Homo sapiens: one gene and its partners. The protein of the gene in region 3 purifies or fractionates together with the protein of the main gene of each other region. This does not show direct contact. Each region holds a gene or a part of one and is shown on either strand. Other genes may lie near its edges. The genes, in order: HIKESHI, DIRAS2, SIRPD and EPDR1.

Region 1 (8,164 bases), on a different chromosome or scaffold from region 3:
GAGGTCTTAAAGAACAGAGAGGAAAAAAAAATAAAGAATAGAGATAACATTTACTTACATGTTTTTTAATAGAATAAAACTCATTTTATCTTGCAATTACCATATGGACCACTTTGTAAATCTAAGAAGCATTTGGGGATATTACTGGTCTTACTTTACCTATATATTGAAGCATTTTGTTATTTCATCCAGGAAATTATTTTATCAGTACTCATCAAAACTATACTTACAAAAAGGGGGCTAAAATAAAAAAAGAAAAATGTTGGAATTAGCTAGAGTAGAAGTTGGCAAACTTTTTTGTGAAGGATCAGTTAGAAAATATTGTAGGCATTGTGGGCTACATTTGATCTCTGTGGCATATTATTCTTAAACAACCCTTTAAATATTTGAAAACCATTCTTAGCTCCCACGTCATACAAAATAGGTTGTGGGACCGATTTGGCCTGTGGGCCTTGGTTTGTCATTGCATTAACCTACAATTTTCATGTTGCATTGCCCAAAAGATTATGCCACCTTTTAAGTAATATAAAAGGAGACTGGAGACACCATCTTTATGGTCTCTTTTTAGCTTTTATTGAACAGAATGTAAATTCATACTTTTAAATATTTTGTTCATAATGGCAAAGAGAAGAAAATTGACAGAGGAAGAAGTTTCACAATTATTAGACAAATCAGAAAATGAATACTGAAAGGTAAATTCTACACTGATGACGATGGTAAAGTGGATCATATAAGCAAAATTACCTACTATGAATCTTCAAATAAGATCTCATTATCTGAGTTTTCTCAACTAAAAATTTGATGATTGAACAATGTATTTTTAAGGATCAAGAGAAAATATGAGGCCGGGTGCGGTGGCTCATGTCTGTAATCCCAGCACTTTGGGAGGCCGAGATGGGTGGATCACTTGAGGTCAAGAGTTCCAGATTGGCCTGGCCAACATGGTGAAACCCCGTCTGCACTAAAAATTTGAAAATTAGCCGGTGTGGTTGCACAGGCCTGTAATCCCAGCTACTCGGGAGGCTGAGGCATGAGAATTGCTTGAACCCAGGAGGCGGAGGTTGCAGTGAGCCAAGATCGTCCTACCGCACTCCAGCCTGGGCAACAGAGTGAGACTCTGTCTCAACAACAACAACAACAAACAAACAAAAAAAAAAAAGAAAAGAAATATGGTATTCTACTCAGTCATTTAAGAAGAAGGAATTTCTCACATAATATTTTGTCATGGACAAGTAGTAAAGGATGTGTTCTGCTATTCTTTTATCTCTTATATTTGTGTTCCAAAATAGACTGGATATGGTTTTATAAATAGACAAATGCTGAAAGCAGGGGTGTATAGAGAAGTGATTGGAAGGAAATAGGTATAGGAATGAAAAAAAAAATAATTGGCTTGATCATTCTAAATAATGGTTATAAATCTAAAAATGAAAATATTTTGCAAAATGTAGATCAGAGGATAGCCATCCTTCAACAAATTATGAGCCGTTAAAGGTTTCAAAACTTCAAGCTTTCAGGTATTATATTATGGCAATGTAGATGCCAAAAAAAGAACAAGATACAACCATAAGCTATAACTTTATTAATAGATATCTGACTTATGAAATTTATAAAATGGATGTGTTCCATAAGACGCATGTGTTCCATGTTTATCCATGATGGTTGATGGGCAGTTGTATTCACAGGACATAGCCCATTTCAGCTATATCTTAAAAACAAGGAAAATGTGGAATGACTATCTGGATTTGCTGTACTTAAATACTTAGAAAAAATCTAATAAAGTTGTTTTCCACTATTTCCTGATTCTTCTCAACATTCTTTGTAAAATATGTGTGTGTGTGTGTGTGTGTGTGTGTGTGTGTGTGTAAAGTTTCCATTAGATGCAAATAACAAATGATGGTGACTGCTTTTCCTTGTATACTGAGAATAAAGAACTAGCTCCCTGTAGGAATTTTTCCTCTGAGTTGTGTTTTGTGTTAGGCTCTTGATTTACATGGAGGAGGGATGCTTTGAGAAAGAGTCTTAAAAAAAATTAGCTGCTGCATTTACTGTTAACAGTGTTTTAAAGAACTTGATCTAATTTACATTTGTTTTTTATATTAAGACTAGGTCATATATTTTGCTTGCTCTTCTTTGTATTATGATTTATAATTTATTATTTTTGCATCTATTTGATGATATGCTTTGATAATGATATGTTTTCTGGATTTTAGCATAATTCTAGATTTAAAAGAAATCAAACGGTAGAGTAAGGAGCTCCAGAAAATCCAGTCTTCCATAAAAGCAACAACAACACTGTCAGAAGATCACAGCTCACTGTAGTCTCGATCTCCTAGGCCTAAGCGATCCTCCCACCTCCACCTCCCAAGTAGCTAGGACCACAAGCATGCACCACCTCGCCTGGCTAACTTTTGTAGAGATGGGGTCTCCCCATGTTGCCCAGGCTGGTCTCAAACTTCTGGGCTCAAGCAGTCCTCCTGCCTCAGCCTCTGAAAGTGTTGGGATTACAGGATATGAGCAACTGTGTCTGACCCAGAATCAACTTTTTTGGAACTCTGGTAACTAACCAAAAGCTTGTAGCAATCAGGGGAACATTTAATCAAGAAAATACACTGAATCTCAGTAAGAACAGTGAGCTTTGTGGCATTTGGCTACCCTTGTCCCATCTGCTTCTCAGCTCAGTGATAGCCTTGAAAATAACAGACTCCATTCCTGGTACTGATATAGGGAGCAGGATAGACCTAATTCAGAAAGAATTGTAATTAACTTGTTTTCATCTGTCTGGTGGCTTGCTAGAAGACTGTTTAAAAAAAAAGAGGTCTGCCTTTATGTCACCTAACTTGGAACTCTTCATGGAAAAGTATCTACCTTGGGGGTGTTTGTTAAAAGTATTTACAGACATATGTTTTAGCTACTGTTGCCCGAGGCAAAGGAAAACAGTTGGAGTAAACCAAAACTAACCAGAAAGGTTGGGAATGAGATGCTTTGGGGAATGAGGGCTTTGAAATTCTCTGACATATTCTTGGTAATCTAGAAGGGTACGTGCATTCCCAGAGCTTTGTGCATGCTCAGGAAAGACCCGCGAAGACCCAGAGCTCTCTCTTCTGGCTCACTTTAAGTCTCCGCACAAGCAGGAAGTGAAGACTAAGGTGGAGTTATAAACTGCCTGGCTGAATACTAAAGGCATGTCCCAACACGCAGAGCCCATCTGCAAAGACTGGCAGAATTTTTTGGTTGCAGAGGTTTAAGGAAATTTCTTTCTAATCACTAGCAGACTACTAACTAATGGAACAGAGACTTCACTGGCCACACATAACAAAGAAACAGACTTTACAAAATTAGTTCAGATAAGTCATTAAATGAGGAAACAACTACAATAAACAGCAACAACAAACCCCTAGAAGGTGGAAACATCTGATTTATAGCGTCGTCACATTGTAATATTCAAAATGTCCAGTTTTCTACAAAAAATTATGAAACATACAAAGAAACAAAGTAAGGCTCTTATACAGAGGAAACGAACAGAAACTTCCCCCAGGGAAGCACAGGCAAAGACTTTAAGTAAGCTGTCTTTATTATGCTCAAATTGCTAAAGGAAACCAGAAGAATGATACATCATCAAATAGAGAATATCAATATAGAAATTATAGAAAGGAACTAAACAGAGTTTATAGCTGAAAAGTACAGTAACTGAATGGTTCACTAAAGGGCTTAGATAGCAGAATTGAGTAGACAGAAGAAAGAATCAGTGAAGTCGAAGATAAATTAATTGGAATATCCAGTTTGAAGAGCAGACCCTTAGAGACCTGTGAGACACCCTCAAGTGCACCAACATGCACAGCAGACACAGTGTAATGAGAGTAACATATGGAAAGGCGGGAGGGCTGGAAAGAATATTTGCTCTGGTCTGAATGTTTGTGTCTTTTTATATGATGAGGTCTTTTAAATTTATATGCTGAAATCCTAACCCCCAAGGTATTGGGAGGTAGGGACTTGGATGGTGACTGGGTCATGGGAGTAGAGCCCTCATGAATGGGATTACCACTCTTAGAGTAATAAGAAGATCACTTGCCCTACTACCACGTGAGAACACAGTGAGAAGGCACTGTCTGAACCAGAAAATGGTCCTTCACCAGATACCAAATCTGCCGGTTCCTTGATCTTGGACTTCCCAACCTCCAGAACTGTGAGAAATAAATTTCCGATGTTTATAAGCTACCCAGTTTATGGTGTTTTGTTATAGCAGCCTGAACAGACTAAAACAATATTTAAATAAATAATGCTCAGAAACTTCTCAAATTTGAGGAAAAACATTAACCACATTTAAGAAGCTCAAGAAACTCCAAGTAGGATAAACTACACCAAGACACACGATAATCAAACTGTCAAAAGGTAAAGAGAGAATGTTGAAAGCATCAAGAGAAGTAACTCATCACATGCAAGGATCCTTGCTAAGATTAATAGCTGATTTCTCATCAGAGACCCCATAGTCTTCTAGACGGTAGTGGATTGGCATATTCAGAGTTCTGAAAGGAAAAAAAAAAAAGCCATCAACCAGGAATTATATACTCAGCAAAACTGTCTTTAGAGATGAAGGAGAAATACTTTCCTAGATAAACAAAAACTAAGTCATTGCTGGCAGACCTGCTCCATAAGGAATGCTAAAGGGAGTCTTCTCTATTAATTATTTATTTTTCCCACACTCTGTTACTGTCTGTGTCTAGTTGCAGTAGTTTCAATACATTTCAGAAATGTGACAGCTATTTTTCTGGTGGGAAACTTTTAGTTCTTTTATTCTTTGTTAATATGCTAAAAACGAAGTAGGCTTTTGCATTTATCTGAAAAGAGGGACAAACTTGGACATAAAACTTTTTCATGTATATAAATTAGAGGTTCTTTATAAATTTACAAAGGAAATTGTGTGACTACAAGTTTAATTTGAAATGTGTGTCATATGTTAATTTCTTGCAGGAGAAGGAAGCCAACATCCTTTTGGAGCCATGAATATTGTCCGAACTCCATCTGTTGCTCAGATTGGAATTTCAGTGGAATTATTAGACAGTATGGCTCAGCAGACTCCTGTAGGTAATGCTGCTGTATCCTCAGTTGACTCATTCACTCAGGTAATGCAACATACATTTCATTCTTTACCTCCCCCTCCACTGCTTTATTAAGGTATAATATACAAGTTAAAATCGTAACTTAGGGTATACAATGTGATGTTTTTGATACATGTTTACATTTTGTTTTGTTTTATTTTGTTTTTGAGAGATGGAGTCTTGCTCTGTTGCCCAGGCTGGAGTGCAGTGGCGCAATCTCGGCTGACTGCAATTTCCGCCTCCCGGGTTCAAGCGATTCTCCTGCCTCAGTCTCCTGAGTAGCTGGGACTACAGGCACATGTCACCACACCCGGCTAAGTTTTGTATTTTTTTTTTAGTAGAGACAGGGTATTGCCATGTTGGCCAGGCTGGTCTCGAACTCCAGACCTCAGGTGATCTTCCTGCCTCGGCCTCCCAAAGTGCTGGGATTACAGGTGTGAGCCACCACACCCAGCCTATATTTTGACATAAAATCAAGCTACTTAACATATCAGTCACCTCACACAGTCATCATTTTTTTGTAGAGAACAGTTAAGATCTGATCTCTTAGCAAATTACAAGTATACATTATTAGTAACTGTATTCTCCATGCTGTACAATAGATTTTCAGAATTTATTCATTCCATTGAACTGAAACTTTGTGCCCTTTGACCAACATGTCCTCATTTTCCCTTCCCCTCCACTCTTCAACCCCTGGCAACCATCATTCTACTGTCTGCTTCTGTAAGTTCAACTTTTAGATTCCACATATAAGTGAGATCAATCATGCTATTTGTCTTTCTGTTCCTGACTTCTTAGCCTATTATCAAGAGGAAAAATTGATGATGTAGGAGAGCAAGGAGAACTGCTAAAGCAGTGTCCTTGAGTAGAAAATAGCAGCATATATGGAGGTGTTCACTTTAGACAGGATAATGGATATATGGGTACAGATTCAGGAGGCTGGTAGATGTGGTGATGAGAACTTGTGCAGGCTGTCTCCTGATTTCTTCTTGCTTAGTGAAATAGAAAGGACGATCATCAGCTAAGATCGAGGTAGTAGAAATTGAAATAAAAAAAGACTACTAAATAAGTCTTCTAGCAGAGGAGGAGTGAATGGATTAGGGAAACCATATGTGTTTGCCTGGCAGTACCAGAGGCGCACTTTTGAAGGTTGTGGTCATGAATGTAAAGGTAGATTTGTCACATCTTTGAAAATGGACTGAATTGAGAATGACAGACTCTGGGTCTCAAAAATGTTTTTTTTCCCATAATTTTACAAATAAGCTGCTGTGCTGAAAACAAACTATAAAATAATCGTAGTATCCTGTGTAGACAATATTTTAAAAGTGTCTGGAAAATACACATTAAAATGTTATCCCTGGAGAAGGGTAAGAAGACTTTTTTACTGTACATGTTTATAAATTATTTGAGTTTTTAAAATAAAACTATAGTTTTAATTAAATGTATTACGAAATATTTTAAATACAGAGAAAATAGAGTAACTTATATTTTCCACAAATAGTTATTATGTAACTACTCTGTACCAGGCATGTCTTTTTTTCTTTTTCTTTTCTCTTTGAGACGGAGTCTCACTCTGTCGCCCAGGCTGGAGTGCAGTGGCGCGATCTCGGCTCACTGCAAGCTCCGCCTCCTGGGTTCACGCCATTCTCCTGCCTCAGCCTCCCAAGTAGCTGGGACTACACGTGCCCGCCACCAGGCCCAGCTAATTTTTTTTGTATTTTTTCGTAGAGATGGGGTTTCGCCGTGTTAGCCACGATGGTCTCGATCTCCTGACCTCGTTATCCGCCTGCCTTGGCCTCCCAAAGTGCTGGGATTTCAGGCGTGAGCCACCGCGCCCAGCCTGTACCAGGCATTTCTAAGCACTCATAGATACAAATAGGTCCACAAAATAGAATAACACCTGTCTTTACAGAGCTCTCTTTATGGTGGGGTATACATTAAGACTTCCATTGTCTTCCCCCTGGATTTAACTGTTATATTTTGTCTTATTTGCCACTAATTTTTAAAAAAGAAATTAAGGCATTATAGATATAGCCCACTGCTGCCTGCTTCTCTTCCTGCCTTTTACCTTCTAACTTTTTATATCTTTCCTATTCATATTTTAGTACTTAAAAAAATTCCTGTGTATCCACAAAATATGTATAGTACTATCTGTATCTGTTTAAACATGTTTCTAATTTAATTACTTAGTTACTCCAAATTTTTATGAGTATTACATGTATTTGGTTTAAATAGTCAAATAGTTTTTTTTTATTATACTTTAAGTTCTAGGGTACATGTGCAAAACGTGCAGGTTTGTTACATATGTATATATGTGCCATGTTGGTGTGCTGCACCTATTAACTCGTCATTTACATTAGGTATTTCTCCTAATGCTATCCTTCCCCCTGCCCCCCACCCCAAGACAGACCCGCCCGCCGTGTGTGATGTTCCCTGCCCTGTATCCAGGTGTTCTCATTGTTCAATTCCCACCTATGAGTGAGGACATGCGGTGTTTGGTTTTCTGTCCTTGTGATAGTTTGCTCAGAATGATGGTTTCCAGCTTCATCCATGTCCCTGCAAAGGACTTGAACTCACCCTTTTTTATAGCTGCATAGTATTCCATGGTGTATATGTGCCACATTTTCTTAATCCAGTCTATCATTGGTGGACATTTGGGTTGGTTCCAAGTTTTTGCTATTGTGAATAGTGCCGCAGTAAACATATGTGTGCATGTGTCTTTATAGCAGCATGATTTGTAATCCTTTGGGTATATACCCAGTAATGGGATCACTGGGTCAAATGGTATTTCTTAGTTCTAGATCCTTGAGGAATTGCCACACTGTCTTCCACAATGGTTGAACTAGTTTATACGCCAACCAACAGTGTAAAAGCGTTCCTATTTCTCCACATCCTCTCCAGCATCTGTTGTTTCCTGACTTTTTAATGATCGCCATTCTAACTGTTGTGAAATGGTATCTCACTGTGGTTTTGATTTGCATTTCTCTGATGACCAGTGATGATGAGCATTTTTTCATGTATCTGTTGGCTGCATAAATGTCTTCTTTTGAGAAGTGTCTGTTCATATC
Region 2 (8,164 bases), on a different chromosome or scaffold from region 3:
CGCCACTTCTCTGCTTTCTCAGCTCAGCATGAGTGTTCCCCCTGTAAAGTCAGGGCGGTTTTGTTCTAGGAGATCATGGAGTCAAGCAGTTCTCAAAGGCACCTCCCACGCTCTAAACACATCCCAAGGGTGAGTTATTGGGAGACCAGAGAGGATGAGATCAGGACAAGGGAACTGAACCAGAAAAGGCTGAAGAAAACTAGGACATATTGAGAGAGCAAGTGTGCTTTGGGGGATGGAGATGGCCACACTGCTGCTGCTGCAAGCCCTGCATAGGAGGGACAGGAGAAACAGCAGTTGCAGGAGGTGGCCTGGTCAAACATCCCCAACTTAAGCCCTCCCTGTGCTGACACTGCCACCCAACAGCCATGCAGCCCCCACCCCCCCAGGCAGGCCCACGTGGGACTGCAGCTCCTTCTGCCTGCCAGGCGGGTGACAGGAAGACTGCTGAGAGGATGATGCCACAGTTGGGGCCAGTAAATGTTCTGCCAACTGAAACAAACAGGAGATCTAACAGGCACTATCAGTGGGAGTTTTCAGGAAGCCAAGTCCAACCAGGCTCTACGATGGCAGAGCAATTAAGCTGAGTGGGCTCTTCCCAGGGCAGAGAAGCCTGCCTGTCTCCAGCCACCATCCTATCCCCAAGCTAACACAGGAAACCTGAAATAGCTGTAATTTGGCTTGAAAGATTAAAGATGCACACAAAATCATTAAGAGAAAAAGATAATTGTTTCTAGAGTGAATACTGTATTGAACAGCTCTTAGAAGACACGTATAATGGAACATGCAAGAGAATTTACTATTATTTAAATGCATTTTCCAGGAACATATTTCCAATACAGATAGATCATCAAAAACACAGTGAATAACTTCTGTTTCAAAGTATTTCATTAAGGTGCAAAGTGTGGCATATACATGTTTGTGACACTACAAAAATGGATGTGCTTCTGGTTGTCTGATGGCCTTTGCTGGCTGCTACCCAGCTGGGTACAGATCGAGTTATTTAAGAGAAGAAAACCACCTTGGAGGAAAAAAACGTCTAAAAATAGTGAGTTTATTTGCTTGTATTTAAAATCTGAGGGCTGAAAGAAGTTATACTCCTCACAGGTCAAAAGAAGAAAATCACATTTCTAAAACCCTCGATGTATAACACACAGGAACATTATTGCGATGTTTTAATACTGTCACGATATCCTCACTTAAAAACTGAAGAACTTCCGACAGAGCAGCACACTGTTAGTGCACTTATCCCTGCACATGAAGATAAATACTCTAATAGCTTAAAATGATACTTCCTAACTAGGTCTAGGTAAGGTGAACACATCCCCTCAGGGTAGCAAGGCTCCTAACAGGCCAGGTGGGAATTAAGAACGGACACCCTTTGGGGGAGAGGCTGTGTTTTTTAATCCCCTTTAAAAAAGTGTAAAATGGACCAAGTGTGGTCCACTTTGGACCATCTGATCTTCTCACCTCTTCCTGCCCCTCCCCTCCCCCAAAGATGTGATTGGCTTCTGTCTGGGGTTGGTGCAGGTAACTCTAGGTTAACACGCTCTCACATGCACGTAGATGACATTTAGTCCTCTCGGTACATGTTGCTTTGTGGGTACCAGTCCTCCCTCCCACCTTCGGGTGTTCATCGCCACCTTCAGCAATTGCTGGCACCTCTCAGTTCCCAGGGATGCTGAGTGTGTTGGTTTTCACTTGAACCGCCTGGCAGATTCTGTGACTCCAGAGTGGGTGGCTTACTGTTGGTGGTGTGAAACGCCCTCTTAAGGACAATAGGACGCATCTCGATTAAATGCAATGTTTAACACGTGGGCATTATACATGCTACCCTGACGACGGTGGGTGTCATTTTGGGGGAGTGAGGTGCCGGGGACACACAGCTGCTCCTCCCGCAGGAAGGGCCTTCACATGATCACGCACTTGCCTTTGAGCTTCTCTTTCCTTTTCTGCTGCTTGCTCTTTTTCCCGTCGATCTGGAGACTCACGGTCCTGCGCTTCTCCAGGTTGAGCAGCTCCTGGAAAAGCTCCTTCACGTTATGGTTGAGCTTGGCTGAGGTCTCCATGAAGGCACACTTCCATGTGCGGGCCAAGGCCTCCGCCTCGCTGCTCTGCACCTCGCGGCTGGGGCTCTCATCACACTTGTTCCCCACCAGCATGATGGGGATGCTCTCCACGTCCCCTTTGATCTCGCAGATTTGTTCGTAGATGGGCTTGAGCTCCTCCAAGGACTGTCGGCTGGTAATGGAGTACACCAGGATGAAGGCGTGCCCTTTGGAGATGGACAGCCGCTGCATGGCCGGGAACTGGTGGCTCCCCGTCGTGTCGGTGATCTGCAATGTGCATATGCTCTTGTCACAGCTGATCACTTGCCGGTAGGTGTCTTCCACCGTCGGGATGTAGCTCTCCCGGAATGTGCCTTTCACAAACCTCAACACCAGGGAGCTCTTGCCAACACCGCCAGCCCCAAACACGGCCACCCGGTAATCGTTACTCTGCTCAGGCATGTTGCTGGAGAGCTCCAACTCTCAGCCAGGACGCACCTAGCAAAGGAACCAGATGTTTGAAAGAATTAATAATTAAAATATAAAAACATTAATAAGGATAGCTCTACCCTCTTTTGATAGCTTAAAAATGGGAGGTGATAACATTTAAAATAGCGACAATTCTAAATCCAATAAATTTGGTCAATCCGCCGTTTTCAAAAGGACAGACGATCTACTCAGGGGCTCACTGGAGCCCATCTGTTTCTCTTTATTGGACCATGACAATGAGCATCTTTGCTCCCACATAGGCCCTAAGCCCAGGTAAAAGATGCAAAGTGAGCCCGAGAGACAGCACCAAGGAAAGGCAATGAGAAGATAAATTAACTACCCCCGTAAAAACACAAACACACATATGCACACACACATCACCATCATCAACAGCAGCATATCTTTGCTGTTTTACCTGAAGTACTGAGTACCCAATATACTGGTCATCATAATGTGTGTGTGTGTGTGTGTGTGTGTGTGTGTGTGTGTGTGTGTGTGTGAGAAATACTGGGAGAGGGAGATGAATGAGGGAAAAGGATGTTCTAATATTTATTCAGTGTTTATATTAACTCATGAAATCCTCACCACTCTGCAGGAGTTGGTGCCATTAGCTCTGTTGTACAATGATGAAACTGGAAACAAGGAAGAGATCGGGAATGGAATGTCTCTGATGTTACACAGCAATAAGAGGGAAGGCTAGGATACAACCAAAGCATTGTGGATGTCAATGCCCATCCCATAAGCTGTCTGTAGACAGAGCTGGTCCCAGTGACTTGGGCGTTACTCAGGCCATAGTATAGATTGTCTCCATTAAGTATGAAGAGTTAACTAATAAGTGTGGATAGTCATTTCATTCATCAAAATTAAGATGATTATATAAGCTTTATTTTTAAGAAACATAAGGAATCAGGTATTACCAGGATAGTAGCATAAACTACTTTTTAAGGGTCATTAAAAATGAGGAGAATGCAGCAACTCTTCATCACAAACTTCACCCCTAGTTTAATATTTATTTTTATTCAGGGATGTGTAGATGTGCCTTCTTAATTTACAATCTATCAAAATTTTTTCATTCTGTACCTTCTTCGGTAAGGAAGGACATATAACACCAAACAAAATAGAGAATTACACAATTTGGATACATTTTTAAAACTGAAGTTGATAAGTAACATGGTAATGTGAAGCATGGAATTCATTCTTCTCAGCAAGCAGGCATTGTGCTGACTTTTCACCTTTCTAGTTTTAGGGCAACTTTGGAAAAACAATAAAAAGCTTTACTGAAGCAAATAAGTTTTAGAGTCCAGTAAAAATATTAAACATAACTACCAATGGAAGGAAATGCATTTGTGCAGTGAATATGTTCTCCTGACAGACAGAACATCAGGTCAAAGCCCTGGACTGAGGTATTCCACCTTCTCATTTTGCCTCATGCGTCTGCCTACAAATCTGCTCGATTCAATACTCAGCTGTTCTTGCATGCACTTTGGAATCCCAAACCCTCCAAGAAGCTAAGGAAACATCAATGCTAACAGAAAATATAAAAGACTGTTAGGAAGTTCATTAACACCAAAAGATGGCAGAAGAGTCTGCTTAGGAGTTTGGTGAAGTTTATTAAATGCTTATGAGATAATTATGATTAATTCAAGGGTGAAGCATTGTGATAAATTTTTCCACAATTTTTTTAAAAAAACTCAATCGTGTCTTAGTTTGTTTTCTGTCACTATAACAGAATACCTCAGATGAAATAATTTTAAAAGCAATCTACTTCTTACAGTTCTGGAGGATGGTAAGTCCAATATGAAGAAGCTGGATCTGGTGAGAGCCTTTTGTTGCCTCATAACATACTGGAGGGCATGGCATGATAAGACAGAGCAAGCATGTCAGCTAGGGTCTCTCTCCTTGTCTTATAAAGCCACTGATGCCATGACAGGCATTGCCCAGCCTCCTCATGACCTCATCTATTCCTAAAAGCCCCACTTCCAAATACCATGAACATACACATTTGAGGATTACATTTCTAACATATGCACTTTTAGGGAACACATTTAAACCATAGAAAATGGACAATGGAATCTAATCTTAAGCTTCTTTCTACATCCTCAGAATGAAGCTCTCTTTTTGCTTAGAAGGGAGTTTCCTCACTCGTTTTGCCTTGTATTATGGTTATGTAGCTCCAGACTAGAGCATAAGCATCTAGCTGGAAGAGAACATATCTTAACAAGTTCTGCATCCCAATGTATCTCAAAGATCTCTTGGTTCACAGCACATACACTCTTTATGAGTTTGCTGAATATGTGGTCAGCTATGTTAAGGTGTCTCCATTATTAAACTGGCAACGAACACATAGGAAGTAAATGCTAAACATAAAATAAAGTATTCATGGCTACAATTATTCATTTACCCAGAGAAATATCCACTGAGCTTCCACTAAACCAGGCTGTGGACAAGCGGCCAGAAAACAACTGTGCAGAGGACAGACTTAAGGAAGGATCTCTATTCTCATGAAACTCAGAATCAAGTAAAGCAGACATCAATCCAAAAGATAACTTCATAAATATTTAATAAATTATATCATAGCAAGTGCTGCAAAAGAGAGGTCTGAAGGAATTTCATGAAATTTGAGATATCAGGAAGAATTTCACTAAGGAGGTGGCATGGAAGCATGAATCTGAAAGATGAACAGGAGTCAGAAAGTTGAAGGGGTATAAAGTTCAATGTGCATTTATGAGATAGGCCTGGGCCAATAACTCCATAGTGATCTTCAACTCACTAACAAAAACCCAGACTGTAGAGAATCACTTGAACCTGGGAGGTGGAGGTGGCAGTGAGCTGAGATCATGCCACCGCACTCCAGCCTGGGTGACAGAGCAAGACTCCATCACAAAAAAAAAAAAAAAAAAAAAATTGTAAACTATTTTCTTCCATGTCAGAACCATTCATTTATTTCACAAGCATTTATAAAATGTCTTCTAGATACTGTGCAAACTCAGTGCTTACCCAACAGCACTCACAGCATTAGAGGGGGGACAAGCATAGGAAAGTATACATTACGCCCCACTTCGCAGATGCTGTGATCTAGTTATCAACAAAGGCAGGATAAGAACCTAGTGGGGAATCTAGCTCTGCCTGGAGCCCTCAGGAAGCATTTCACAGAGGGCTGGAACTTGCCAGATGGTGAAGTGATGAAAGGCGTGTTAGTCAGAAGAAAGAACTTCATAGGAAGGAATAAATGGAGGAAATAGAGCTAATGCTCATGCCATGGTAGACAGCTTGTGTAAACTGGCATCCAGGAGTGAATTTGGGGTAGCAAGTGAGTGGTGGCACTCACCATCAATCAAGATAAAAGGCAGAAGAGAGAAGCAGCTTTAGAGAAATGACAGTAAACAACAAGGAGAAAGGAGCTGTGATTGGGTCAGGTTTATGGGACAAATGGGGGAGATATCTGGTAGGTGATTGGGATTTAGTGTGAAAGTTCAGCAGAGAGGACTCATCTAGTGATAAATATCTGGATACCATTCATACACAAACAGCACTATAATAAACAAAAATTCTCCAGGGAGAGAGCATGTAGAATGAAAGGAGAATACCACATGCCCAATCTGTTATATGCTATTGAGAGAACTTGGCAAGTTACTTAAACTTTCTGCATTTGAGTTGCTTTAGCTAGGAAATGGATATAATAATGCCAAGTTGTTTATGAGACTAATGTGGGGAGTAACACAATGCAATCAAGCACTTGAACAGCTCTCAGCACATAGTTTTTTGGCTACATTCAAGAAGGACCATGCAGATAAGGGGTTCATAAAGGAGCAGTATGATGGACAAGGAGAAAAATTCACAAGAGGGCAACTAGCTATTAAACTCATTCAATAAGATTTCAGAATACAACATTCATATAAAGAACCAACTGTATTTCTATACACTTGCAATGAACAATCTGAAAATGAAATTTAAGAAAATAACTCAATTTATAATAGCATCAAAAAGAGTAAGATACTTAGGAATAAATTTAACAAAAGATGCAAAACATATCTGGAAATTACAAACATGGTTGAAAGAAATTGAATACACGAATAAATGGAAAAGCACCCCATGTCATGTATCAGAGGACTTTTACTGCTAAGATAGCAGTATTTCCAGGAATCACCTACAGATTCAATGCAATTCTTAAAAGCATCCCACTAGCGACTCTGCAGAAACTGACAAACCGATCCCAAAATTTATGTAAAAATTCAAGAGACCCAGAATAGTCAAAACAATGTTGAAAAATTAAAAGTGAAAAAGCTGGCAGACCCATACTTCCTGATTTCAAACTCACGACAAGGATATAATACATCAAGAAATTGTGGTACTAACACAGGATACACAGATACATGAACAGAATAGAATTCAGAGTCCAGAAATAAACCCTCATATTTACAGTCAATTGTTTTTTGACAAGGGTGTCAATAAAATTCAATTCAAAAGGCAGAAGGAATAGTCTTTTCAACAAATGACGCTGAAACTGGTAAAAGAATAAGGGGAGCACCTCTCCCTCACACCATACACAAAACTGACTCAAAATAGATCAAATACCTAAATATAAGAGCTAAAACTATAAAACTCTTAGAAGAAAACATAGGTATAAACCTTGATAACCTTGGAGTAAACAGTGTTTTCTTAGATGTGACACCAAAAGTATGAGCAACAAGATTAAAACTAGGTAAATGTGACTTCATCAAAACTAAAGGACACAATCAAGAAAGAAGTAACCCACAGGATAAGTGAGTATTGTTATAAATCATATATCTGATAAGGGACTAGTTCTGGTATATACAAAGAACTTCTACAATTCAACAACAACAAAACAACTCAATTAGAAATGGGCAAAAGACTTAAAAAGACATTTCTCAAAAGAAGATATATGAATTTATTGACTATATTTAATAGTCAATAAGAAGATATACAAATAGCCAATAATAAGTCAATAACATGAAAAGATACTCAACATAATAGTCACCAGGGAAGTGCAAATCAAAACTATAACAAGCCTGTAATCCCATCACTTGGGAGGCCGAGGCAGGCAGATCACAAGATCAAGAGATCAAGACCATCCTAGCCAACATGATGAAATCTTGTCTCTAAAAATACAAAAATTAGCTGGGCATGGTGGCGCATGCTTATAGTCCCAGCTACTCAGGAGGCTGAGGCAGGAGAATTGCTTGAACCTGGGGGGCAGAGGTTGCAGTGAGCCAAGATCTCACCACTGCACTCCAGCCTAGCAACAGAGTGAGACTCTGACTCATCTCAAAAAACAAAACAAAGGCTGGGGGCGGTGGCTCATGCCAGTAATCCCAGCATATTGGGAGATCGAAGTGGGTGGATCACCTGAGGTCAGGAGTTCAAGACCAGCCTGGCCAACATGGTGAAACCCCGTCTCTACTGAAAATACAAAAAAAATTAGCCAGGTATGGTGGCAGGTGCCTGTAATCCCAGTTACTTGGGAGGCTGAGGCAGGAGAATCACTTGAACCCAGGAGGCAGAGGTTGCAGTGTGCCAAGATCACGTCATTTCACTACAGCCTGGGTGACAAGAGCGAAACTCCGTCTCAAAAACAAAACAAAACAAAACAAACTATAAAGTACCGC
Region 3 (8,164 bases):
TTCACTGTGTTCACCAGGCTGGCCTCAAACTCCTGTCCTCAAGCGATCCTCCCATCTCAGCCTCCCAAAGTGCTGGGATTACAGGCGTGAGCCATTGCGTCCAGCCTGTAGTAAGTTTTGAAAGAAAAACGTGTGTTCTCCTACTTTATTTTTCAGGATTGTTTTGGCTATTCTGGATCCTTCATATTTCCACATGAATGTTAAGATCAGCTTGTCAATTTCTACAAAAAAGTAGGTTGGGATTCTGATAAGGATTGTGTTGGATCTGTAGACCAGTTTGGGGGAATAGTGCCATCTTAAGAATGTTAAATCTTCTGGTCCATGAAAATGGGAAAATTTTCAATTTGTTTAGATCTTCTTTCATTTAACATTTTTTTGTAGTTTTCAGAGTATAAATTTGCACTTCTTTTGTTAAATTTATTTTTATTTTTAGTGTTCATTCCAAGTGTGTGGAAATGTAATAGATTTTTGTATATTGAACTGTACTCTCAAGCTTGCTGAACTTGCTCAGTAGTTTGAATAGTTTTTTAGTGGGTTCCTTAGGATTTTCTATGTACAAGAACATGCCATTTGTCAATAGAGATAGTTTTACTTCATTCTTTCCAATTTGGATTGTTTTTATTACTTAATTGTCCTGACTAAAAATTTTAGTACAACGTTGAGTAGAAATGGTGATAGGAGATATCCTTGTGTTATTCTTGATCTACTGGGGACAGCATCTAACCATCCTCATTAATTGTGACATTGGCTGTGGCTTTCGGTTTTGCTAAATATGATGTTAGCTATGGGTTTTGCATCCATGCTCTTTATCAGGTTGATAAAGTTCCCTACTATTCCTAGTTTTTTGAGTACCTTTTTAAATAAAAGAATTTTAGATTTTACCAAATTCCTTTTTTTTTATCATCTTGAGAGGATTATGTGGTTTTCTTTTTTATTTTATTGATATTGTGTTGTATTAAATTAATTGACATTCAGATATTAAACCAACCTTGTATTCATGGGATAAATCCCACTTGGTCAACATGAATAATGCTTTCTATATGTTGCTGGTTTCAGTTTGCTAGTATTTTCTTAAGGGATTTTTGTGTCCATATACGTAAGATATATTTGATCTGTGTTTTTTTCTTGTGATGTCTTTGTCTGGTGTCGATATCAGGGTAATTTTTTATTACTAATTTAATCTGTTTAGTTGTTATAGGTATCTTGAAATGCTCCATTATTTTTGGGCCAGTTTTGGTAATTTTTATGTCTTCTAGGAGTTTGTCTTTTTCATCATATAAACCTAGTTTATAGGCACACATTTTTTCATAGTATTCTTTAATATTCCTTTTTATTTCTATAAAGTTGCTAGTAATGTTCCTTCCTTCATTTCTGATTCTAGTAATTTGAGTTTCCTTTTTCAGTCTCCGGTCCAGCTGACTAAATAGACTTGAGAAGTTTTCAGCTATTCTTTCTTTGAATATTTTTTTCTGCTGTTTTCTCTTTCTCCTCTCCTTCTGCTATCCCTATTACATGTATGCGGTGTGCTTAATGATGGCTTACATTTCTCTGAGGCTCTGTTCATTTTTTAAATGTTATTTTCATTTAATTTTTCTCTGTTCTTCAGATTCCATAATTTATATTAATCTATTTTCAAATTTGCTAAATCTGCTTCTTCAAATCTACTGTTAATCCCCTCTAGGGTAATTTTTCTTTCAATTGTTGTACTTTTGAATAATAAAATTTCCATTTGGTTCTTTTTAATAATTTCTGTTTATTGATATCTTCTATTTGATGCAACATTATCATGTTACTTTCTTGTACTTATTTAATCATGGTTTGTTTAATCATGTTTCTTTGAACATATTTGTAATGGTTACACCAAATGCTTTGCCTGTTAAGTTTGACATCTGATGGCCATAACAAGCAGTTTCTGATACCTTTTTTTTTTTGGTTTGTTTTTGGTATACTTGTCATAGTTTTCTGTTCTATTGCATGTCTCACTTTTTTTGAAACTGGACATCTTAGATAATACATTGTAGAAACTCTGGATATTGGTCTTCCTCACAACCACCGAGGCTTGTTATTGTCATCTGCTTGTACAGTTGTTGAGTGACTGGATGGATTATTTTGGTGCAGTTGATTCCTCTTCTTTGCCATGGGGTATAGCCTTTGACAGGGAAAAGGTGGGTTTTGGTTCAAATATCAGACTTTTACTTTTCTTCCCCAGTTTTAGTAGTTTAAAAATTATTTCTTCATTTATGATATGCCCTTAATACTATTTCCAGAGCCTCTAAATATTTTTTAAAAATAATTTTCACCAGTTTCCATGGAGTGGGCCCTTGGAACTCCTTGTGCTGTTATGCCACCCATAGTGGTCTATTTCTGTTGTTTTAAGCCATCAAATTTGTATCCATTAGTTACACCAACTACAAGAAACGAATACATAGCTAAGTATTTTAAAAACATATGTATACATTTTTATTTATTAAGAAATGGCATAAATTTGGTACATTTCTGACTCAGAACATTTGAATGTTAATAAAGATATTGAACTCATTCACAGTATTCTCCCTCTAAACAGCTGTCATGCACTCCTATATCTCCACTCTAACTAGAGACTTCTTACTAAGAAGGAGGCAAAGCCATAAACCCAAAGGGTTCCGAGAAGAGTCTACCTGGGTTCCAGTACCCATAACCTGGAAGACAAGCCCATTAACCTTTCAGAGGCTCAACTTCCTCATCTGATAAGGTAGGGTGTGGACCATGTGGTGGATGAACATATTTTGTTTTCAACCTGCTTAGCATTTGTTCCATTGGGTTGATTGGTTATCTCCCATGGACCTCCTCTCCCTAGCAACAACGAATAAAATGTTGACAACATGGCATACAAAAGGCTAATGTGGATAGTTCCCTAGAACTCATTTGTGAAGGTTGGTAGGAAGAAGCTGTCTTTCCACCTTGGTTGTAAGATGGGGGAATGAATATCAACATTTTCTGCATTTATTTTCGCTATCATATACTGAAGGTTTATATGCAGCAGGAAAGATTAAAGCCATGAAGAGATGAGAGAATTTCAGAGAGCCACAGTCTTGGTAACATTAAGCCCTAAATCCAATCCTTTAGTCCCTGGTTCCAAAAGTTCTGCCTTGAATACTGTGAGGAACCCAGAATCCTCTGCAGGTACAGAATCAATCAACTCATATTTTTGGTTGAAATTAATGCATTTGATCTTCTTTCTTGTAAGTAAATGTTCTTCACTAATATAGAACATACTGGACTGGGCCCAGACCAACCCCACCTCTTTATTCCCTACTATGTACACTCCTGAAATCTCCCTGAGTTAGGTTCCTCATCTGTACAGTGAGTACAAGCATCCAGCAATTCAAATGTTGCTGTGTAGATAATATAGATGAAATGTTTGGAATATAGTAGATGCCCAATAAATGTTAGCATTATTGTATTACCAATTTAATAATTTCTCAGGCTGGATATTGCCCAAATTTCACAGGGCACCACAAGTAGCAAAACACTAAGAAAAAGGCTTTGGATGCAGGGAAACATAGATTTGTACTTGCAGTTCAACACACTACAACACACTGTGGGATGTGCGACTTTTATCATTCTTGTAGCCCTTAGGACATTGTTGATTTAAGCAAATTGGCTTAGCAAGGAGATGTTTTCTTTCACATTATTAGAGGTCCAGAGGTGAGATTGGAACAAGGAGCAGTATGGTTGTGCAGATTGTCAATCCACACTTGTTACATATCTGCATTCATCTAGACTTTTTCTCAACCTTATTCCCCTCATGGTCATAAGATGCCTGCTTAAAGCACCTGGAGCAACACAGTTGCTTGTTTCCAGCCAACAAAGGGAAGAATTACTTTAGATTACCAGATTTTTCTGCAAGCCTGTCTTTTTCTCTGATAGACCCAAACTGGCCAAGTTCAGCCCATATTTGAGTAAACCTCTAGCAGGGAACATGGAATTATCCTAGTTGGCTTAGGTTAGTCATGGGGGTGGATTAAATATTGAGAAATCAACCAAAATAGCTCTTATCACTCATCACTCAACCTTTTCAAGTCTTTTTTTCTTCCTGTAAAATACCTAACTCACAGCTTGCTGAGAGAATTAAAAAGATCAAATGTATGTTGTACCTTCAATAATATTTGGCACATAGCAATTATTGAATGAATAGAAGACATAACTGCTGAGATGATATTATACACCAGGGGGTATGGGGTATAGGAGACATACTCACCAGTAACAAACACCTGAGTGCCCCGACCTGATTGGTACTCCTTGATAGCTCTTCCTTTTATGAACTTCACGCAGTAATAGGTGCCAGCATCAGCAAGAGAGATTTCACGGATGCGGGTGGAAAAGTCTGTGTTGCCAGGCTTGGTGGTGTCTCCAATCTCTTTTACTCTGGGAAAGTTACCTTGTTTGAAATTGTAGATTAATTTCCGGTTTGGCCCTGTTCCCTTGAACCACAAGACAGGTCCATTTGGTAAGGTATTGGGTACGCTGCAACTCAAGATGATTGACTCCCCAGTTGATACAGTCTGTGACATCTCCGTTTGTTGCACATGGAACACATGTGTGACTCCTGGAAAAAAGCTGAAAATCATTTCTCATTTCCCCTGTTCTGGCTTAAGCATGGGTACGGGTCACGGTTGGGCCTCATTCATTAATTCTTTTAATGACATGCGCAAATGCCCATGCATTGAGTAAAGAGAGGCCTTTGCACATGGAGGCAGCTTCTCCCTAGAGTGCTGAAGGAAGGGAGTTAGTCCAGAAGACCAGATGTATTCCTCCTCAGTTCCATTCCTCAGCCCTCAACCGTGGTAAGAGGAGGACAGGGAGAGAGAAGGGGCAATTATCAATGGGTAATGTTCTTGGAGAAAGACTAGTTTCCCTATCCATCTAATTGCCTAGAGTCACTCGGTACATTTGGAACTGGGTTCAAGTCCTGTCCTTCAACCCTACATCTCCACTGAGTTTGGGGTTGGCCTTCCTCTCTCCTCTGAAGGGTGATTAGCCTCTGAATTTGTACAGAAATTCATGCTGAGAGATGCACAGAAGAAGTTAAAACAATTAAAGAATGAGGTGGTCTTGGCAACAGCATATGGTTCCACTACTTATCTCTTCAAGAGAGAGAAGGGAGAGGGTTTCCTCTCCTCAACAAAAAGAGATTAGAACCTCAAGGGCCCTCTACAATTTTGGAGGTTCTCACCAGCCACCCTTTACCCTCCTACACAGTCATCATCACTACCCTACAATGTGTCAGGTCCTGGTAATAATCTCTCCTATTAAGCTTGGTTGTCAAAACCACAGACTGCCTAAGGAGCAGGTTAGAGAGAAAGGGAACTCCTGGCTGGCAGGGCCAGGAGGTAATGGTAGGAAGGCAGCCTGCATTGACATTATGTAACTTAAGGGAAACCTGTGGATTTTCCATTGCCATTTTGGCATTATGGAATGTGTCTGGATTCAAGGGAAACATTACTGGGAAGGTCAGTTCTCCTGGTAGAACTGAGGGACACCTAATACCACTGTATTTCATGACGTTAATTCAGAGGGTGGTGAGGAGAAGGAAATACTGGTTATCCTGGGAATAAAAATACTGGGAATTAAAGAACAGTGGGGCTGGGCATGGAAGTCTCAGGACAGACCTGGGAAAGTTCAAGTGTCAGGGAATGACTCAACCCCTATGGGAAGGCTTTTTGCAAAAAAGACTTTGGAGAGATTGATACACAAGACCCCTCATTCTGGTCTAAGAATTCCCTAACAACAGTGCCAGGCCATGGTAGGAGATCACATCCACTCATTGACTTGTATGGGGAATGGGAGTGTGATCTCAGACTGGACTGTGGTGACCACTCAGGTACTTGCTATCAGGTCCCCATCACATTCCAGTTGGTAATGGGAAGGTGACTGGGATCATGGAGGCATGTAGAGATTCTACCTGCCTGAAGAGCCCTTTGTTTTGGCCCAGGAGATACTGGGCATTTTGGGGAAAACTTCACCTATGTTGAGATTCCATCAGAAGCTAAGATGTGGCTACTAGCATCTGTGACTGGAAGTTCAGGGTCATGGAATAAGTCATAATATACACAATGCATATACCTGGGCCCAGGTTTCTTCGTAAAACCTTAGAAGTCAGTCAGCCTTCTAGGACCCAGTTTTCTTACCATTTAGGCCATGCAGTGCACACATGTAGTTGCACCTTGCATATCCAGTATCTTTTTATTTGTAAATGTCTCCTATGTCATTGGGTTCTGGTGGGGTTGGCATCAGAGAAGGATGTGGCTTGTCAACATAGCTTGATTCAGTATTTGGCACAGGTTGTCCAGAATGGCTTACTAGAAAGGCTATTAGAAGAAACCTAGTCTACAGGGTAGTTCGTGGATAAAGGAGCATGGTGTTCAGTATGTAGTGATGATTTGGTACATGGTGAAGGGTTTTAAAGATTCATCTTCATAAACCCAGGGAATAAAGTGCATCAGGCTGTGCTCACCATTCACATACACGGTGGTGCCTGGACCAGAGAAAAACTCCATGTCAGGGTGTCCTACCCTTAACTTCACACAGTAGTAGGTGCCAGCATCCTCTGGCAACACGTCACTGATGCGAATGGAATAGTCAGTTTGATCAACCATTGTGTTTTCCACTGGAGTTACTCTGGGGAAGTGGCTTCCATTGCAACTAAAGATTAATTGTTGTCCTGGCCCAATGCTCTTGAACCACAAGACAGGCCCTTCTGGGGACAGAGCAGACATATTGCAGGCCAGGGTTAGGACATCTCCGGGATTGACTGACACTAAAGTCTGAGGCTATTTCACCTGGAACTCTTCTTCTGGAGTTCCTGGAAATAAACATGGAATCATCTCTTATGTTCTCTGTCTTGGCTCAAGATGCTCTGAGGGTCTGGTTATAGGTCAAGGTGGGATCTCAGTATGATAGCTTTATTTCAGCATCATGTGATGGCACCAGTCATATAAAAATTACAATGCTGGGTGCCATGTGAGGTGAAGGGGAGGTACCAGTGTACAAATAGGAGAATGACACTTTCCTTCTGCATCGGGATATGAGGATGGCCTGCAATATATTAGGCACTAAATAAACATATTTTAAATAAATATATGAGTATATTTTTATTAAATGAGAAAATGCAAAATAGAATTTGGGTCAGATTTTTCTAATTGTCTCAAAATCAGGGATACTGCCCCAAGCTAAGGACAGTATGTTGATAACCAACATACTGCATATGGAGTGACCTGCATATGGAGGCAGCTCCCTCCCATACCGGGTGTTCTGTGGTGTGAAAGGCCACTCATTCACCTCTCCCAGAGTAAACACTGAGGCATGCATTCTCAATGAAGTTGCTATTTTCCATAAAAGGTCACAACTGGTTTTTGGAGTGTAGGATTATCTTAGATATTACAATGGTTGGTTTGTCAATGATCAATTCTACCAAACAAAATCTTATTCCTTAGTACTTAATTGCTCTTGTGTATTCTTGGGTAGCACACAAGCCACACTGACATTGAGTTCATGGCAGATACACAAAATGTCTACAAGATAAGTTCTACAAAATTGCAGTTATTCACAATAGCCAAAATATAGAAACAACTGAAGTGCCCATCAATGTATAAAGGAATAAAAATGTGATTATACACACACATACACACACACAAACATGCAGTAGAATACTATTTAGCTTTTGAAAATCAGAAAATTCTGTCACTTATGACACCATGGATATTATGGTGTGAAATAAGCCAGGCACAGAAAGACAAATACCACATGATCTTGCTTATATGTGGAATGTCGCTTATATGTGGAATCCAAAAAAGTCAAACTCAAAGAAGTAAAGAATAGAATGTTGTTACCAGGGTCTGGGGTGGTGGAGAGTTGGACAAGGAAATGGGAGATGCTGGTCAAAGCCTATAAAGTTGTAGTTAGACATGAGGAATAGGTTCTGGTGATCTATTGCACAGCATGGTGACTATAGTTAATGCATACTTCAAACTAGCTAAAAGAGTAGATTTTAAATGTTCTTACCACAAAGAAGTGATAAGTATGTGAGGTGATGGATATGTTAATTAGCCTGATTTGATCATTTCACTGTGTAGACATGTATAAGAACATCACATTATACCACATAAATATATACAATTATTAT
Region 4 (8,164 bases), on a different chromosome or scaffold from region 3:
GTCTCAAACTCCTGACCTCAGGTGATCCACCCGCCTCGGCCTCCCAAAGTGCTGGGATTACAAGCGTGAGCCACCGCACCTGGCCTCAGACTTCTCTTTGAGAGCTGTAAATGCCATAAACATATTTAAGCAAAAAGACTATTTTTACCCAAATTGTATACACCAAAAAAAATCATTATTTAAATGGCAATAAGTAGATGTGCTTAGACATTGAAAATCTCTGAAAGTATGCAACCTTAGTGTCTTCTCTGAAAAAAAAAATTGAATAATTTCTCTAGCTGACTAAAACATGAATTGAAATAAAGGTAAATACGAAAATTAGTATAAAATAAATTGCAGTGAACTATGAAAGGAGTAAAATGGCTTGTTTCTCTAAAACAGAAGACCTTGTGACAAAGCTCCTTATAAACTTATGCAAACACACACACTATAAAAATTCCTCTGTGTTTTAACAACTGCAGAAATTGACCTTTTTGAGGCTTGATTCAGCATGATGAAAGAGGACTACAAACCACCAAAACACTTCAAATTCTTTTCAATATACTAAGTGGAACCTAAATAAATACTTGTCCTGTGCAAAAGGAACTGTGTTCTGATGTCCGAGAAGTGGATTCCCAAGCTTCATTTCCTAACTCCTTAAGGAGAGTTGAGACCTCAGAAGGGTGAGATCTCTGGGGTCCAAGGGTAAGCCAGGCCGTGCCTGAAGCTGGGCTAGGATGAGAATTTCTATTCAAAAGGACAGGGTGTGTGACAAGGGACAGGTGGAGGGCTTGACTGTGAGAAGAAGAACTCCCACACCTACAGGAAACACAATCCATGCCAAGATACAGCACCTGATGTGGCATTTCCAATGGATATGAAGTCTGGGGCAGATTCTCTTCCCCCATCCTTCACTCCCAAGAGTGCCTGCTGGTACTCAGATACTCCTCATAAGTTATATGTTACCTATTGCTGACAATGCTGCGTCAGGCAGAGCTGTGCCCTTGGCCCTGCACCACCGGCTTCCCATCTGCCACTGTCTTCCCTGGTGGCTTCTGAGATGCTCTGGAGCAGCGTCTTCCCTGAGAGAGCTGGGGCTGTGACTCTGGTGCCTCTTCCAAGGTGAGCTTTTGGCTGTCACTCATCGGCAGGGCCCACATTCTAGAACTCTACCAGAAGATCTAACTTTAAGCCACAACAAAAGCAGCCTTCTGTGAGCGGGCAGGAGTCATCCAAGGCATGTATATCCTTTTCCTCCAGGAGAAGTTGCCTTCTTTAGGGGAGCCATCATCCCAAGAGTTTCTCCTTTCTTTGGGGGGACTGAGGGTAACTTAGGCACCCTGCTAAGGATCTGATTCCTCTTCAGATGGCCTCCCGACTCAAAAAGGCACTGCTTCTGAGAAACTGTGGGTGCTTTAGAAATAAATCTCAAATGCCCACATTGGGTGAAATTCCCCAAAATTGAAATTGAGGCACAAGAGAGACACTGAAGACAGTGTTTGATGAGAGGGCAGTGGGGGAGTGGCTCATGGGCGAAAGGAGTTTGGGGCATCCACTCTCTGGAGGTGGTGGTGTGCCCTCCACTTCAACCCTACTGGAAAACTTTTCAAAACACTGCAGTGTAATTCGATGTCAAAAATCATTCTTAACAGAAAAGAGGTATAACGTAACATATAAATGAAAAACCATGAAACCATTACATAAATCTATCATTTTATTGTCTAAGAAATTTAATTATAAGGAAAAAAGGAAAGAAAATACATATCTATTATTTAGGTATCCTTCTACAATGAATGTATATTATCAGTTATTCATTTCCCTCATTCACTGATTCAAAAAAAAATAAAAATTAGTCAGGCCCTGCTCTTAGCAGTTAGAAAATGGAGCTTGGGAATCGCCTTCTCCGACATCAGAACACAGCTCTTTTCATATGGGACAAGTATTCGTTTAGGTCCCACATAGTATGTTGAAAAGAATGTAAAGTGTTCTGAGGAGTTAGAGACACAGCAACAACCATACAAAACCCCTGGCCTTACGGAGCCTTATTGTGCATGAGGGAAGGTGGGGGAGATGAAGGAACAAACTTTAACGTTAAACACTCTGCCAGATAGTCATAAGTGCCTTGGATATATTAATATAAAGCAGTGAGGGGGCACTGAGAATGTTGAGCAGAGAAACAGTTCAATTTGGGAGTAAGTCATGCAGCTTCTTAGGAAAAAGTCTTTCTAGGCAGAGGGAATGACAGATTCAAGTGCCAATGGGGTCAGCGTGCTGAGGCCAGGTCCACAATGAGTGAGCTGGTGACAGAGATAAGGTAGGGAAAAGGCTGGGGAGCAGATCCTGAGCCAAGAAGTGGCATGACGTATTTTCAAGAGAACCCCTGGGGTTTCTATGTGGAGAACAGACTAAAGGGAGCAAGGTCCGAAGTGGGGACAACTGTTAGGAGGCTATCATAAACATCCAGCCGAGACATAATAAAAGTTTGGGCCAGAATAACAGTAGAGGTATGGTCAGATTCAGTATATATCAAAATTAGGGTATAGGTAGGAACATAAAGAGATGAGAGCCTGAGCCCTGGGAGAGTCCACTATTAGCAGTCCAGAGAAGAGCAGAAAGAGCAAAAAGGCTTGAGGAGAGGAAATAAGGTGGGAGAAGGAAAACCAGAAGACTAGCATGTTGAAAGCCAAGTGAAGACAGTGCATCAAGATTGGGGAATTAATCTACAATAAGATGAGGACTGATCAAAGATTGGTTGATTAGTAATGTAGAGCTTCTTGCTTTTGACCAGAGTATTTTCAATAGAATGGTGACAAAAGTGATTGGAGGGTGTTCAAGAGAGCATGGGAGTACAAAAATTGTAGTTAGCATGAGATTTGCTTTAAATAGAAGAGGAGAATGAGATTTCAGCTGGTAAGATCAAGAGAAGTTTTTTTTTTTTATTTAAAGATGGGTAAAATAAAAGAAAATGTTAAGGGGGAAAATAGAAATTTTTTACTGGAATTGGTGAAATCTAAGACTATCATATTTATTCCAGGAAAAACAAACCACTAATTGGTGGAATATTTTCAGATCTTTGGGCACTTTGCCCCTGACCACCATCCTCAAGGTCAGAATCAGGAAGAAACAGCTCAAGGTTATTGGAGAAAGTAAAGATGTTTTCAAAGCAGTATAGTGACCACCTCTGGCTTCCATTCGTAAATTTGTCTTACATTCCATCAGCCTCCTTACTCTCCTGGGCTTATCTTCTTTGGATCTTTTTTCCCCAGTGCCTGCTTCTCCCTCCCCATCTCAGCATTAATTGTCTGAAATCCAGGGTCTATAGACACACTGAATTAAGTCCCTTAAATCAAACTTTGTGTGCTTCCAAGAAAATCTGTTTCTTGAAGAAAAACTCAAATATTGCGAAACTCAAGTATTGCAAATCAGTATGGTTTATTCTTTGAGGATCAGGAGGCCACAAGCAGTCAAGACTTCCTCAGCTCACAAAAGAATATGCTATCTCCAGCCATCTGAGACCAAAATGATGGAGTAAAGGTCAAAGGAGAAGTCATGCTCTTAATATTCACAAAGTCGTGATTTCTTAAAATGAAAATCCAATCCATGCAAGACAAGATTCATGATCAAATAGATTTATTGAGCACTTTATATTAGTCTGCCTCCCCCAGTCACACAGAAACACCCTCTGAGGATTTGTAATGATGACATACTGAGAATCCAAAAGCAATACAAACATATGTTAAGAACATAATTTCATCTACTCCTTTCTCTTGAACAATTTAGACTAAAGCCACTAGGTAGGACCAAGGAAGATAGGCTTCTACATGGGCTGGCCTGGAGCGCAGAGCCCATGTGTGAAGGAGACAGCGTAATGATACATGACTGGTTACCTACTGCAATTGAATAGTAAGCCAGTTTTCTCACTGGCTGAGAAGGGAGTAGCAAAAATGAAAGGAAAAAAAAAACTAGAATGAACCATGTAGTGTTGGATTAGAATGAAGGCATCAGTTTAAACACCTGTATGGATTAGAACTGGAGGTTCAGAAATAAATATAGATGTAAATGTGTATATATGTATGAGTGTGTGTGGGGAGGGATGTGTGTATTCAAACTTAACACCCCTTGCTTTGTCCATTGAGAGGACCTGGTAGCAGTGCCACCTGATAGCACTGAGCATGACCAGAGCACAGGTTCTAACTTCCACATATTATTCTCCAGGAAAAGTAACCAGGGCTTCTTGAAAAATGGTTTATCCTAGGACTGGGGCAGGAAAAGTATAGATGATCTTGAAATATCTTGCTGTGCCGGAAAGCAAGGAAGTGCCCAAACACATCAAAAGAACATAGAAACCAATTTGAAGAGGCTTCCACTGGCCAAATCTAGGACATTATGAACAGCAAAGTAAACAACGAGAGCAAATAGAACAAAATTAGAAGGCTTGAGTCCACACTGATACAAATAAAGTATAATTCAGAAGATTAATGAAGAATGGGATATGTACATGGTTTTAAAATATTTCCCTACCAAATCTTACTAATTAAAAAGAAAAAATGTATCATTTCACAGTGAAGAAGGCTGGCAGACAACAGTCAATCAGGTGATCAAAGTGAACATCAGGATGCAATTGGAACAGAGTATTATCCCTGATATTCCTGCCAAAGGTAAGTAACTTGAATCTAATTATGAGGAAACATCAGACAAACCCAAATCAAGGAACATTCTACAAAATAACTGGCCTGCAATCTTTAAAAGCACTAAAGTGCAAGGAAGACTTAGGAACTATTCCAGACAGAAAGAGACCACAGAGACACCACACTTAAGTGTAATGCTTGCATTTAAATCTTTTTTTTTTTTTTTTTTTTGCTATGAAGAACATACAAAGAACAACTGGCAAAACATGAATGACACCTGAATTTCAGATGGTCAAAATGAACTGGTGTTAATCTCCTGACTTTTATGGTTGTATTGTGGTTATGCAGGAGAATGTCCTTGCTGGGAGGAAATACACTGAAGCATTTGGGGATCGTGGGTATATCAGTTTGGCAACTTACTATCAAACAGTTCAGGCGAGGGGGAAGCTCTTTGTATTATAATTGCAACTTTTCTGTAGGTGTGAGATTGTTTCAAAATAAAACAAAATTATGTATTTGAAAAATAATCCTCATCCTCCTTTCCAAACACATAAGATTACTGAAGTTACCTTAGGTGATAGCAGCCCTGGGAATTAATCATCCACAGCTGATACTTGGACCAACACCCCTATAAGCAACACTATTCCATTCTTAGTAGGAAGGGAGGCTCAGTTGAGTGCAGAGCCTTCTGAGTTTGGGCCCGAGGCATTTCAAGGTAGCCTCTTCTCTTTTTCTACTCATAAGCACAGGCTTAGATGAAAAAGAGAAGGAAGAAAAAGAACTTTGAATTAATTTGTCTACACAATGGGACAGATTGAGAAAAAATTTAAAATCTGTGTCAAGTTCATTGCATTAGAAACAGTGAATCAGCCTGATATAATAAAAGTACAATTGGTGCCTTCAGGATATCATTTAATACTATCTGTACCTAGCATTTAACAAATGAAAGCCTAAAAGTGATTTAGTATCAACATTGTAGGCATCATTCAAATTAAATTAAAAGATGAAAAACACAGAGGTTCTGCAATGTTGAGGACCTTATTGGGGTGAAGGCAGGATTAGAAGCCATGGTTGTCACTCCATCATGGTCTAACATGAATGCCCCTGCTCTCTCCACTACAGGAGGCTGATTCTCTGTTTAAAAAAGAGGTTAATGCTATTCTCTTCTCCAAGAAATAATATGCTCTGGGAGAATCAAGAGAAGCAGACATGAATTAATCAGAATTTGAATAAGAATCCACCTGCTGCCCCATTTGTGACATATTTTTCATGTTTTACAAATACAAATCCTTAATAGAACATGTACGACTGGTGATGAAATAATATTCCAAGATACCAGACTGTGCATATTGTTTTACTGCCTCTCTGCTCACTCTGCATTAAGAGCTTCATTGATTCCAACACCCAAGCCACCATTTTGTAAGGGGGAGCCTATAGTTACTGGTGGCCTGAGAGGGTTCATTGTGTATCAACGCTGCTTCCCCTATAAAGTTCAACATGCTGCCTGAAATATGAAAATCATCTTCTTGATTTCCTTCAGTCTTTCAAATAAATACTTGTGAATTTAATCAAGGAGTCAGAAAAGACAGTTGGAATTAGAAAATAAAATGGTATCAATTACTAATATTTCCCATTTGCTGCTCAGGCTTGTCTTATCTGAAGCTTGTAAAGTTGTTTAATCTTTTCCATCATCTCAGGGAAAACAGAGCCTGGAAAATCCTAGTCATTCCACAGTAACTATCAATGGGATTTTCCATAACTATCTGGATGCAAAATGAAAATCTTAAGAAGTTGATCCAATTCTAAAACTTACTTCTCAACTTACTCATAAATATGAAGAGACAACTCATCCATATTTTCTTCAAATAACATCTGGTTGCTTGGCCAGACTGTTAATACCTGAAAAAGTTTCTGAGTTTGTTCCAACAAATCTACACTTAAAGAGCTTAAAAATGTGTTTATGCATTAAACATTCTTTTCCACATCTGACTTAGGGCCAGCGATGTGACTGTCAGAAAGAACCTTGCCAAGAACTCGGAAAGAAAGGGAAAACAATGTCTTTTAGAAGTTTAACTGTGAAACCAGCACCTATTGGATTAGGGCAGAGGAATGAGAAATCACCGCAAAGGGACAAAAATGCTTCTAAGCCAGCAAGAGTTGGCTGTGACTCCACTAAAGGTATAAAACACACATCTAAAGGCTATATTAGTCAGTCATGGAGTCATGGAAGAAGGGTTGCTCAGACAGACTTGAGCAGTACTCACCAAGGGTCCATTCTGAGTGGAAGGGGTCAGGAACAGCACAGTTGGGGTAGCACAGAACCACCACCAAGTCATCTCTATTGTGAAAATCAATGCATCACTTTGCCTTTGCCTGATTACCATTAAACCTTACCCCAGGCTGGCCTGTCTTATTCATGATGGAAAACTCCACATTGAGCATACAGCCTAACCTAGGGCAGGCAATCATTAGATGTTTGCTCAATGAATTTGCTCCAACTCTTTGCTCACAACTGCCTGATGATAATTTGGCTCCCCACATAGTTCTGACTACAGGGAGAGAATGACCTAGTCTGGTGGATTTGAGAATGCTGGTCCTCATGCCAGCAATAAGACTCATTGAAGTAGACAGGTTTAGCATTTGAGTTTCCTTACTCGAAGGTTGTTCCCAAAGGAAGGGTCTGTGTGTGCTGCTGTATCAAGTTTCTGAGCCCAAAGGGCTGGCAGCAAGTCTCTGGGCTATGGTAACTTTACCAGGATAATGATGATAGTGGTAGCGATGGGACCAACCTTGGCCATGAACAGAGCATCTTGTGCGTACTATCAGACATTGTACTGTATGTTTTATACACTTGAGCTCATTTAATTCCCATAATAATCCAATAAATTAGGCATTATAAGTATTCACATTTTGTAAATGAGGATACTGAGACTCAGAAAGCTTTATTAACTTACCCAAAGACCCATATTCAGAGTCTGGATTCAGATCCAGATTTGTCTGACTCTAAAGTCTAATTTTTTTAATTGTAAAAAAAAAAATACTACCTTTGGAGAGATGAACCCTTATCCTTCTCTTTGACACACTCCTCTGCTTCAGCAGTGTGCTCTCGGCCATCCCAGTCCATCTTCAATATGACTATTCATCAATGCGCCACTACTGTACAAGTCTTCACATAAAATTACATAGGATACCAATGCACCCTTAATTAGAAGTGCACAAAGTCAAGCCCTGTTGCAAGGAACAGCATCACCATCTACCCTATGCCATCAGTACCATTAGCTTCACAAGCCAAAAATGGGGGCCTCTTTAACGTTTTCCTCTCCCTCACCACGCCTGCCACAACCCGTCCAATCATGTACATTTTCCTCAGTTGAACCTCTTCAATACTTCCCTAATGCATTCACTTGCCCCCTGTTCACCATTTCCATCGCTACTACCCATCTCTCACCTGGACCACTACGACAATCTCCAAGATTGTGTTCTCACTTCCACTTTTGCTCCACATGGCTCCATTTTGTGTCCACATCTTGGGAATGCATTCTTAAGGACACATCCAG

What was found.
Region 1: the proteins of SIRPD (region 3) and HIKESHI purify together in Homo sapiens (affinity purification with mass spectrometry; 2 studies listed by BioGRID and IntAct, with this or other methods). This does not show direct contact.
Region 2: the proteins of SIRPD (region 3) and DIRAS2 purify together in Homo sapiens (affinity purification with mass spectrometry; 2 studies listed by BioGRID and IntAct, with this or other methods). This does not show direct contact.
Region 4: the proteins of SIRPD (region 3) and EPDR1 purify together in Homo sapiens (affinity purification with mass spectrometry; 2 studies listed by BioGRID and IntAct, with this or other methods). This does not show direct contact.

What each region holds. Positions count from the first base shown.
Region 1 is NC_000011.10:86,332,411-86,340,574, forward strand, and holds part of HIKESHI (protein Hikeshi), read left to right. Parts: intron 1-3,553; exon of another isoform or gene 3,554-4,523; intron 4,524-4,968; coding exon 4,969-5,120; intron 5,121-8,164. UniProt on the Homo sapiens protein: Acts as a specific nuclear import carrier for HSP70 proteins following heat-shock stress: acts by mediating the nucleoporin-dependent translocation of ATP-bound HSP70 proteins into the nucleus.
Region 2 is NC_000009.12:90,611,318-90,619,481, forward strand, and holds part of DIRAS2 (GTP-binding protein Di-Ras2), read right to left. Parts: intron 2,547-8,164; 5' UTR 2,511-2,546; coding exon 1,911-2,510; 3' UTR 1-1,910.
Region 3 is NC_000020.11:1,547,451-1,555,614, forward strand, and holds part of SIRPD (signal-regulatory protein delta isoform 1 precursor), read right to left. Parts: intron 4,600-8,164; exon of another isoform or gene 4,589-4,599; coding exon 4,241-4,588; intron 2,744-4,240; exon of another isoform or gene 2,598-2,743; intron 2,409-2,597; coding exon of another isoform or gene 2,359-2,408; exon of another isoform or gene 2,301-2,358; intron 2,150-2,300; coding exon of another isoform or gene 2,004-2,149; exon of another isoform or gene 1-2,003.
Region 4 is NC_000007.14:37,923,153-37,931,316, reverse strand, and holds part of EPDR1 (mammalian ependymin-related protein 1 isoform 1 precursor), read right to left. Parts: intron 1-8,164. UniProt on the Homo sapiens protein: Binds anionic lipids and gangliosides at acidic pH.